Homo sapiens: one gene and its partners. The protein of the gene in region 3 purifies or fractionates together with the protein of the main gene of each other region. This does not show direct contact. Each region holds a gene or a part of one and is shown on either strand. Other genes may lie near its edges. The genes, in order: CUX1, TMPO and TCF7L2.

Region 1 (3,653 bases), on a different chromosome or scaffold from region 3:
CTCTACTAAAAACACAAAAATTAGCTGGGCGTGGTGGTGCACACCTGTAATCACAGCTACTCGGGGGGGCTGAGGCACGAGAATCACTTGAACCTGGGAGGTGGAGGTTGCGGTGAGCGGAGTTTGTGCCACTGCACTCCAGGCTGGGCGACAGAGTGAGACTCCGTCTCAAAAAATAAAATAAAAAGAGTTGATATTCGTTCTGTCTTAAAGATATTAAACTATGTTAGAGAAAACAAAATCATGGCAATTCATTAGGGAGAAAGCCCCAGTTTAAGAAAAATTGTCTTGCTTTTGGGGGGAAATGGAAAGAAGCTTTTGTGTTGCATTTTGTTTTTCGGTTTGGTTTGGTTTGGTTTTTTCATATGCTGGGTGGACAGGATCTGAATGTCTTACATTTAACAAAAAGCTGTCAACACCCAGATAAATTTTTAATGACGGTACGACAGGCATTCTATTTCTCACTGTTTCGCAATACTCACTTAAGAAAGAGCTAATTTGTCAATTTGTTTTTCCCTTAACCAAACTCGGAACACCTCATAACCCATGGTTTACTTGTTAAAAAAATGTTAACTGCATTTCCTTATTGAATAAACACAGCCCAATAGAAAGGTATCTATAAGAAAACAAGCAGTGTGCCAGCATCCACTCAAAGTAACCCCAAGAAAGAACAAGCCACTTCCCTGGTGTCTCAGAGTAAGCTCTGTTAATTTCCTGCTTTGTTAACTGCATCAATCACACACGGTCAAGACCATCCAGACCATCCAAGATCTCAAGCTTCGGCTGATGGAGTCGGCCAGGGCCCGGTCCACTCTGGGGGGTCGTGTGCTTTATAAAGGTTCGGACCCCTTATTGGGCTCATTTTCACAAAGGTTTTCATGAAAGGAAGCAGAACCAAGTCAGTTTCACTTACTAGGAAACTCCCGGCTGGCTAGTTCTTGAGTTGCTGGCAGTGTTAGTAAATCCCTAGGAGGAACACCACCATCCTTGGCTCCGTTCCAGTCACCTGTGTGATTATGTTTCTCTGTGTAGGAAGACCCCTGAGGGTGGGATCTGTACCAGTCCTGCTTGTGGGGTCAGCCAGGGATTGGGCGACGAACTTTGTGGCCACAGTACCTGCACTTCCCATGGCCCGAGGCTCTAATCAACACAAAATTTCTGCCAACGGTCCTGGGCCTCCTGCAGTTAGGAAATGCCGTTGGATTAAAATAAAGAAATTGACAATCTTTATTTTGTGCACTAACATCATCCTCTCTGAATTTAATTACAACAAAATTAAAATTATTTTTATTAGAGAGGCATTAGCTTTTTAAAGGGAAGGTTCTTGACAGGTTTTACAACAAATTAGATGTCTTTTTTTTTTTTTTTTCTGAGACAGAGTCTCGCTCTGTCACCCAGGCTGCATGCAGAGCAGTCACACGATCTCAGCTCACTGCAACCTCCACCTCCTGGGCTCAAGCAATTCTCATGCCTCAGCCTGCCGAGTATCTGGGATTATGGATATGCGCCACCACGCCAGGCTAATTTTTGTATTTTTAGTAGAGATGAGGTTTTGCCATGTTGGCCAGGCTGGTCTCGAACTTCTGACCTCAAGTGATCTGCCTGCCTTGGCCTCCCAAAGTGCTGGGATTACAGGCATGAGCCACCGTGCCCGGCCTTAGACGTCTTTCGAAAAGAATGGTTCACCCTCACTGTGTAATACCCGAATAGGGCAGCACAAATGCTTTTTAAAAATCTTTTAAGTCACAAGCCAGGTGCTTCAAAGCTGTTTCAGGCGCAGGACAAATGAGGGGAACGGCACAGGTTCCCCTCAGTCCTGGTTCATTTCCTGCAGGGAAACCTCCATCCCCGCCAAAGACCACTCTCCTCCATCAACCTTCTCAGAAGACAGCAGAGAAGCTGGACTGATTACAGCTCAGCAAATCCAAAACTGCTCCATACCAAACCTTAGCTGTCCTCAGCAGGAAAATCCAACACTGACACACCATCGAAACTTGGTTCTGAAACACATCCCAAAACCAGGGTGATCGACAGCTTTTCAAGACCACGCCTTGAAAACTGGAATGGGTCAAATAACACAGTCAATCCAGAGGGCCCTGCCATTAATATTTAAGAAAACATCGGCCGGGCACGGTGGCTCACGCCTGTAATCCCAGCACTTTGGGAGGCCGAGGCGGGCAGATCACGAGGTCAGGAGATCGAGACCATCCTGGCTAACACAGTGAAACCTCGTCTCAACTAAAAATAGAAAAAATTAGCCGGGCGTGGTGGCGGGCGCCTGTAGTCCCAGCTACTCCGGAGGCTGAGGCAGGAGAATGGCGTGAACCCGGGAGGCTCAGCTTGCAGTGAGCCGAGATCGCGCCACTGCACTCCAGCCTGGGCCACAGAACCAGACTACATCTCAAAAAAAAAAAAAAACAAAAAAACAAAAAAACTAGCCAGGCATGGTGGCGGGCGCCTATCGTCCCAGCTACTCGGGAGACTAAGGAAGGAGAATGGCCTGAACCCTGGAGGCGGAGCTTGCAGTGAGCCGAGATCGCACCACTGCACTCCAGCCTGGGCGACAGAACCACGTCTCAAAAAAAAAAAAAAAAAAAAAAAAAAGAAAAAAGAAAAAAAGAAAAGAAAAGAAAATAGGGGCCGGGCACGGTGGCTCACGCCTGTAATCCCAGCACTTCGGGAGGCCAAGGCGGGCGGATCACTAAGTGAGGAGATCGAGACCATCCGGGCTAACACGGTGAAACCCCGTCTCTACTAAAAATACAAAAAATTAGCCAGGCCTGGTGGCCAGCGCCTGTAGTCCCAGCTACTCGGGAGGCTGAGGCAGGAGAATGGTGTGAACCCGGGAGGCGGAGTTTGCAGTGAGCTGAGATAGTGCCTCTGCACTCCGGCCTGGGCGAAAGAGCGAGACTCTGTCTCAAAAAAAAAAAAAAAGAAAGAAAATATCCCCCTCACCAAGTTAATACTTTTATGGTTGCTGGTGGAGCTTATATTCTCTAAATGTAGAATTTTTTTGGGGGCGGGGGGGAGTATCTTCTCTCTGAATTCTATATCATTATTGGGGTATAATAAAATGTACCTACATGCTCTGGTCAGTCAAGGTTCATCAAGTCAGAAATCACAAATGAATTCACAAATTCTTTGCTCTAAAGTCATATAACAATGCAGATATTAAATTGCTTGTCTAACTATACCATTAGATTCCTTTTTCACTCCATTATCGGCACACACACACACTTCTCTCGGCATCCAGGCATTCACAGGTATCCAGTTCCTAAAGCGCCCAGCACGACTGCTTTGTCCAGGTAAGCAACAGTGGGACATAAGGAGAGGCTGTGGGGCCCCTCTTCAAATAGCTTCGACAAAACGAATGGCTATAAGTGAAAAGTGTCCCTGGGCTTTGCTATAAAAAGACTCAAACATGGGATTCCAAGAATTCCACCTGTTTCCAATTAGATACCAGAATTGCTTGAGTGTTTAAGCTACACTCGCTTGCTACTTACACAAAACAATTCTTCCGGGTTTTGTGAACATTTTAAATATGTTAAAATAAGATTAAGGGTCTGGTTTAAACAATCGGAGGCAGGGAAATTTCGGTGGAAACCAAAACTCTCTCTCTGCAGCGATAACGCGGGGCTTCAGACAAAACAAAA
Region 2 (3,753 bases), on a different chromosome or scaffold from region 3:
ATTTATTGCAACGACAAAACTAGAGGTTAATTACTTTTTATTATTGAATTATATTGTAAAGTCTACATCTACAATTTAATCAGGAAGAAATGCTTTGCATTTACATCAAGGACACATTTATTCTAATGGAATAAAACAGACACACACAAAAGACCAAGTACATGTTTTTAAAAAATGACTACATGTTTCACCTGGTCCTATTTTTGCTATTTGGACCATACTTTTAAGTGAATTGATCTTACATACATGTTAAGTCTGATTTATCTCCCCACATTTTTAAACACTAAATGAAGCTTCTCACAATTTCTAATTATAAACAAAAGGCTGAAAACAGTATGGGAAACAAAGTTTCAAAACAAAGAAAAGTTGAGTAAAAGGTGCCCCCTCTATGGCTCATCTGAAAGAAACATTTTACTCAGAGAGGCAAACATTTCTGATCTAGGAGTAAGTTTCCCACTCACTTTGCAAGGACCCACTCATTCTGCAGAAAGACCTACAAGTCTTTCTGGTCTCAATTGCAAAGTACGTGAAAATGTGTATGAAAGATCTAAAAGCTAAATATTAGAATAAGGCTAATTGAAATCAAAATTGTGTGCTGGTCTAAATATACATCTTCGGCTTCTTCCTTTTTAGTAAGTATTTTTATTTCAGATGTATTTAAAAATAACTTACATTTTTAGTGTGCTTTATGGTCAATGACTGTAAAGTTGAAACTCAAATGAGTCAGTTTAAAATTTTTGTCTCATTTGATTCTATTGAAATTTTAATCACCTACTACTTTAATCAAGTTATTCATGAGGTAAGTTTCAGCTTAAAAAAAAAAATCATCCACAAAGATAACCATTTCAAGAGTACACAAAATCATAATGCCGGCCGGGTGCAGTGGATCACACCTGTAATCCCAGCACTTTGGGAAGCTGAGGTGGGCTGATCACTTGAGGTCAGGGGTTCGAGACCAGCCTGGCCAACATGGTGAAACCCCGTCTCTGCCGAGGCAGGAAAATTGCTTGAACCTGGGAGGCAGAGGTTGCATCGAGCCCAGATCGTGCCACTGCACTACAGTCTGGGTGACAAGAGTGAGACTCCATCTCATAAAAAATAAAAAAATAAAAAATAATCATAATGCCCACCTCTTAAGAGTATACAACTTTATTAACTACTGCTTATGATGTAATATAAAAGCAAGTACTTTTTGTACTTTTTTATTTTTTTTGAGATGGAGTCTTGCTCTGTCGCCAGGCTACAGTGCAGTGACGTAATCTCTGCTCACTGCAACCTCTGCCTCCTGGGTTCAAACGATTCTCCTGCCTCAGTCTCCCTAGTAGACAGGACTACAGGCGCACATCATCACGCCCAGCTAATTTTTTTGTATTTTTAGTAGAGACGGGGTTTCACCATGTTGGCCAGGATGGTCTTGATCTCTTGACCTCGTGATCCACCCGCCCTGGCCTCCCAAAGTGCTGGGATTACAGGCGTAAGCCACCGCGCCTGGCCCTTTTTGTACTTTCTAATCAAATTATGCTGGGAAATATAGGGCAAAAAAAGCTCGGCAAAATTTGTTTCTGGTAACAAGACAATGCAATAATGAATCCAAATGAAACATAAGACCAGTGTTTACAATTTCTAACTTCTAAACAAACATACACACACTTATCTAAAACATATTTTGGTAGCAAACTGGATGACTGAATAAATGTTTTGCTGTAAATAAAAAATACAAATTTCCAATTATAGCCTTATAGCTAGCTAAACAGCTTTTCAAAACATGTACAGCTAGCCAACAATTCTCTAAAATATGTATGTTACACTAAAAGATCTCTGCTAAAAATCTACTGTATGTAAATGGGTCTTACTGAAATAGGACTTTCATGATACTGTGTCTTAAAAAGTGAGTATGATAGGGCTACAACAACATTACTATTAATAAAGGTTACAGAAGAGATTATTGCTGTACTTTTCCTCATAAACACCATCAAACTTTGTTGCAGTTACAAAAAGTACAACCAAGTTACTTTTCCTCTTACTGAATTTCATTATGTTTCACATATTTGCAGTTTTTATTCAGCAGAGAATAATTCTTAAAATCTTTTCTGTAAGAATTCTAAGTATTTAAATGTGTAGCTTCACATTATACTACCATGTTTCACCCTTCGTTTCCCAAATACACAAAAAACATATACATTTTTTCAAAAATGAAATAAGATGCCCACATTAAAAAAATAAAGCCTACAAAAAGTTCCAGAGCTAAAAAAGATTATTCATATGGCACAAAGTGATCTCCTACTAGTCCAAAGTTCAAAAACATTTTAATGAAGTCCATTTATATATATTTTGTTTGCTTTTCAATGAAATACTACATTTATTGAGGCGAAATCACATTATTTTTAGTTCTTGGAGTCAACAAGTGTACACAAATGTTTTTCAACAGTTATTGAAAATAGGAGACCAAGTTGAACGTGCCAAAGAGATACCATTCAGTTGGATTTTCTAGGGTCAACATGAAGAAAATTAGAGAAGGGATTTACTTGGTTGGTTTCCATAGCTTGATAGACCAAAAACAAAAAAACTGCCACAACAACAAACAGCAAAATTTTTATCCATACGGGAATGGAGCGTCCCTTTTTTGTCTTTTCTGACTTGACATCTGCCAAGGGAACATACTTAGGAACATATTTAGATGAAAAAGACTCCTCCATCCTGAAATCACTGAGTTCTAATGGCCGGCCTGCAGCCCCTTTGATTGGTCTGCGGCAACTAGCACTGTTGGGAGTGAAAGGAGGAAAAGAAAAATAATTTTAGATAAAGGCATGATTTAGAGAAATAACATAAAATGTCATTGCCACTCCTAATTCCAAGCACATTCCCTGAGGTAACAGTAGAAAATTGATACATATAAAGCAGTGAGGTCAGTCAACCTATTTAAAACTTCTACATATTTTCTATTTTAAAAGTTAGATGGGCTGGGCATGGTGGCTCGCGCCTGCAATCCCAGCACTTTGGGAGGCCAAGGCGGGCAGATCACCTGAGGTCAGGAGTTCAAGACTAGCCTGGCCAACATGGTGAAACTCTGTCTCTACAAAAATACAAAAATTAGCCGGGCATGATGGTGGGTGCCTGTAATCCCAGCTACTCAGGAGGCTGAGGCAGGAGAATCGCTTGAACCCAGGAGGTGGAGGTTGTAGTGAGCCGAGATCACGCCACTGTACTCCAGCCTGGGCAACAGAGCAAAACTCCGTCTCAAAAAAAAAAAAAAAGTTCGATGCATCCTTTATTAGAAAAGAATATTCAGAACACTGATAAATAGTCACTAAACCTGCCTTCTTAAAGGCTCTTCAAAGCTCATGTTTAGGAGTAAAGAGGAAAAACAAAACAGTTTTGGCTGTGTTTCTTTCAGTTAAAAATTAAGATACATAAACACAGCCTTTTCAATTAGAAAAGAGAAACTTAGGGGGGAAAAACTATTTCTCACTAGATTTTCGTTTAGATTTTAACATATGAATTTAAGTAGTAAGTAAGTGATTTATTTAAAATCCTCCATTTACCAATCGCAATTTTGAAACTCATTCAACTTTCAAGAATATTTACTGGTGGGCTTAGGGGAATTAAACTGCTCCCAAAAGAACAGTTCGTTCACTTATTTATTTAAAAGTCGGTGGGTAGACAGAGTCTCATTATGTTGCCCAGACTGGTCTCGAACTCCTGGGCTTAAGCAATCCACCTGCCTTAGTCTCTTGAGTAGCTGGGACTACAGGC
Region 3 (3,653 bases):
TTCGAATGTATCAAAAAAAGAGAGAGAGAAGGAAAATGTAAGGAAACAAACATGCTAACAACCTTCATCTTCATCCCCTTCCTCTCAAAATAATGTGAAAAACAAAAAAAGCAAAACCCCTTGGGAGACACTTGGGCTCCAAGTGACACCCTGTTCCTTCCCACTGCTCGAAGGCCTCAGAGGAAACAGAAGTTAAGAACATGTGTTCTTGGAAGCCCTTGGGTGAAGTGGTGGGTGGCAGCTTTTACTGTGAATTTTGAAGGCCTGACATTCCTCAAATACATATGTTCCCTTCCTGCAGAATGAGAATATGTGTACAGACGTGAGAGGGAGAGGGAGGGGGAGAGAGAAAAACACTGCATGTGTGAGTGTGTGTGTGTACGTGTGTGTACATACACCAAATACCACGGGAAGGCACCACAATCTGAGTACATTTTGGGGTGCAGACAAACTTCTAATGCAGCCATGAAGAAGGCACATTTCTAAGTTCCCATACCTACGCGTATATTCCCATATCTGAAAAATGTTCAGCAAAGAAAGAGACCATGTGTGAACATGGATGTGGGCTGTATACACATACCTTCGCTTAAGAAATTCCTTTCTGCAGACTACTATTTCATGAAATGCAATAAACACCCTAAAAATTCTAAGCAGCTCATTATATACCCCCGTCTGCTTTCATGGCTCCAAGCCAGAATATAATGATGAACCTTAACTTGTTAAGAACAACTAATTTTTGTTTCTGGCTGTCTCAGGGGCTTCTCTCTTACTCACTCTCACTTTACTTCACTGTTGACACGTTTCTGTTAACCGGATGTCATCTGCCGGCCTTGATTTTATGCACAAGCAGTAGGATGCATTTTCCTGTGCAACAATCCTGCTTTGAGTTGCATTAGGTTTGTCATTATTCTCTCATTTTCCCCCTTGCACTTGTAACATTTCATCTCTTCCTGCCTTATTTTTTGTGAGCCACGGTGCACCCACATTATGGTTTATACATGATCTCGCTCCCTTTGAAGCCGGCAGATTTCAGAGCCGGCTCTCGTCAGGAGAAGAGCCTTGCACCAATTTAGCAGGCTGAGGGCCCGGAGCTCCAACATCTCAATCTAAAGGGGGTCACAGGGTGGCACAAGTGAGTGTCAGCAAGAGCTGTTTAATTGCCAATCTAGGCTTCTCCATGGTGTTTAAAGTATAATGACCCATCACTTAATTCTGAGAAGTCCTGGCCCCACTGCTGAATAGAATGAATATCAAAGGGTGTTCTGGAACAGGGCAAGCTGCCTACATTTGCTATAACTGCCATAAGTATAATAGACCTATACTTCTGTCGCCCCATTATCACAATAATGTATTTAATTTGCTGTATATGCTTTTTAACTAGCTATCTTTCATTTGGCCTACCTGGGGAGTCGGCCGCCTCTCCCCGCACCTTGAGGCCCTAACCTTTCTTCCTGACGTTCCCTGCCTTTCCTCCACCCCCATGCCCACCTATAATTCATCGACTAACCTCCTAATGATAATTCAATCGATCAGCTTAACCCCAATCCCTATCCTACAATTACTTTACCACTGTTAACCTCCAGAACGCACCAAATAAACAAACATGAAAAATAACCAGGTGTAATATACAAATGCTGGGAAGGTGGGAAGATGAGCTGTGGAGTATAAGCTGCTACACTAATAGAATGACATGTAGCCGTGGTCCCTGGGTGCTCTCCACCTGGGAGACCCCCTACTCATTCCCATGCTTTGCGAGGCTGTGATGACACTATTTAATAAGTGTTACGCCTCCTCTTCTCTCTAGGCCAGAGAACACACGAGCGTTTTCCTACCTAACTAATACTGGCATGGATTTTGAAATTTTGATGATATATCGCAGGTAGAAAATGGATCTCTTCAACTATGATATCCACGGCATAGTTACCGATGCTAGATATGCCACGGTTTGTTTTTCTTAATGAATGTAACTCTCTATCACTGCTAAAGTTACTGTTTTGTAAGTAGGAAAAGCAGCATCTTGACCTGTCTTTCCAGGCCCTTCTCTGGTCTTGGCTTCCCATGTTGGCCACAGGGACTGGGGAAAGAAGCTGGGGACAGCACCCCTGCCATGTAACGCATGCTAATTTCATTATGTGCCATCATCAGAATGGGTTGGTGATTTCAGACCATCAGCAAAGTCTAAACCTCCACCGATTTAATTAACTTGACTGAAAATCAGATGAACAGAAAATAAAACTATCATTAGAAACAATTAGCGACTAAAACATACTGCTGCCAACCAGTTTGTAAATAAACTAGCAGTCACTGAAAAATTAGCCAGAATTAATCAGAGGGAGGAAAAGAAGAACATGGGGATAGGAATGTATCTTGTAAATATGTTTCTACGCTGAAATATAAATATATATGAATGTACAGCACACACACACATGTTTTTTTTTAACTTTCAAAGACTTAGAGCTGCACAGACCACTATGATATGCACCAGCCACGTGTGGCTATTGAATATTTGAAATGTGGCCAGTCTAAACTGAGAAGTGCTGTGCGTATAAGATACACATCAGATTTTGTACCAAAGCTCAGCACAAAAAAGAACATAACATCTTATTAATAGTTGTTGTCCAGGAATAGCATGTTAAAATGATAATATTTTGGCTATATTGCATTGAATAAAAACATGTCATTAAAAATAACTTTATCTTTTTTTTAAAAAAAAAAAAACAAAAACTTTTTTAAAAACACGGCTACTACGAAATTTAAAATTCCCTCTGTGGCTCACACTATATTTCTATTGGACAGTGCTACCTTCGAGGGGAGGAGGCGGATGCTTTCTTGTTGACTTGCAATCAGAGTCTGAGCTTTGAGAACACCAGTAATCTTTTTTCGAACTCTTCTTGGTATAATAATAAAACTACCTTCACCGCTACCTTTCTTGCTGAGGACAGGACAACAGAGAAATGGCATTTTTAAAAGCTTCTGTCCTGTTTCTCCCTTACCTTCTTAATTCATTAAAATACATTGTTCAACTGAGTGACTCAAAAATTTTACCCAGAAAGACATCATTTACCTTGGAATTTCAGGGCAATTTTTCAGGATTTTCTGGGAGTACAGCCTAATGCCACATTGGCTTTACACTAATAGAACTACATGTAGCTGTGGTCCCTGGGTGGCTTGGTGGCCATCTAGAGAACTTCTTGAGAAGTCACACATGGCCTTGGATGAAGGCCCCGGTTCTTGGAACTCACCTGGACATGGAAGCATTGACGGTCAGAGCTGTGGGGTAGGGGTGTCTGAATCCTCCTGTCGTGATTGGGTACACTGGTTGACCTTGCCTACAAAGAAGGGGTACAAAGTAAGAGACTTGAAACAAGGGTGGGGGTGGGGACAAGAAAAAGAAGAAAAGGGAAAAGTTCTCTCTGCACAGTAAGCTTTATTCTCATTTGATCAGAACAAAAATCTTGGGGATTGTACAGGAAGGATCAAAGGGAAGAAACACAGAACAATTTGAATGCCATAAATCTGATAGGAATGGCTAATTAAATTTTATAACCTCTGCTTATGTCAATAGAGACCCTCTCCCCAAGCTGAAACTAGGTGTTTTGTTGTAATAATTAAAGGCGAAGTCTCGCTTGCTTTAATGGAGCCATCACACTAAT

The links.
Region 1: the proteins of TCF7L2 (region 3) and CUX1 purify together in Homo sapiens (affinity purification with mass spectrometry, with the first as the bait; 2 studies listed by BioGRID). This does not show direct contact.
Region 2: the proteins of TCF7L2 (region 3) and TMPO purify together in Homo sapiens (affinity purification with mass spectrometry; one large-scale study listed by BioGRID and IntAct). This does not show direct contact.

What each region holds. Positions count from the first base shown.
Region 1 is NC_000007.14:101,820,623-101,824,275, reverse strand, and holds part of CUX1 (Homeobox protein cut-like 1), read right to left. Parts: intron 1-3,653. UniProt on the Homo sapiens protein: May be involved in intra-Golgi retrograde transport.
Region 2 is NC_000012.12:98,546,580-98,550,332, reverse strand, and holds part of TMPO (thymopoietin), read right to left. Parts: intron 2,761-3,753; coding exon 2,475-2,760; 3' UTR 1-2,474. UniProt on the Homo sapiens protein: May help direct the assembly of the nuclear lamina and thereby help maintain the structural organization of the nuclear envelope. Possible receptor for attachment of lamin filaments to the inner nuclear membrane.
Region 3 is NC_000010.11:113,145,687-113,149,339, reverse strand, and holds part of TCF7L2 (transcription factor 7-like 2), read right to left. Parts: intron 3,330-3,653; coding exon 3,243-3,329; intron 1-3,242. UniProt on the Homo sapiens protein: Participates in the Wnt signaling pathway and modulates MYC expression by binding to its promoter in a sequence-specific manner. Acts as a repressor in the absence of CTNNB1, and as activator in its presence.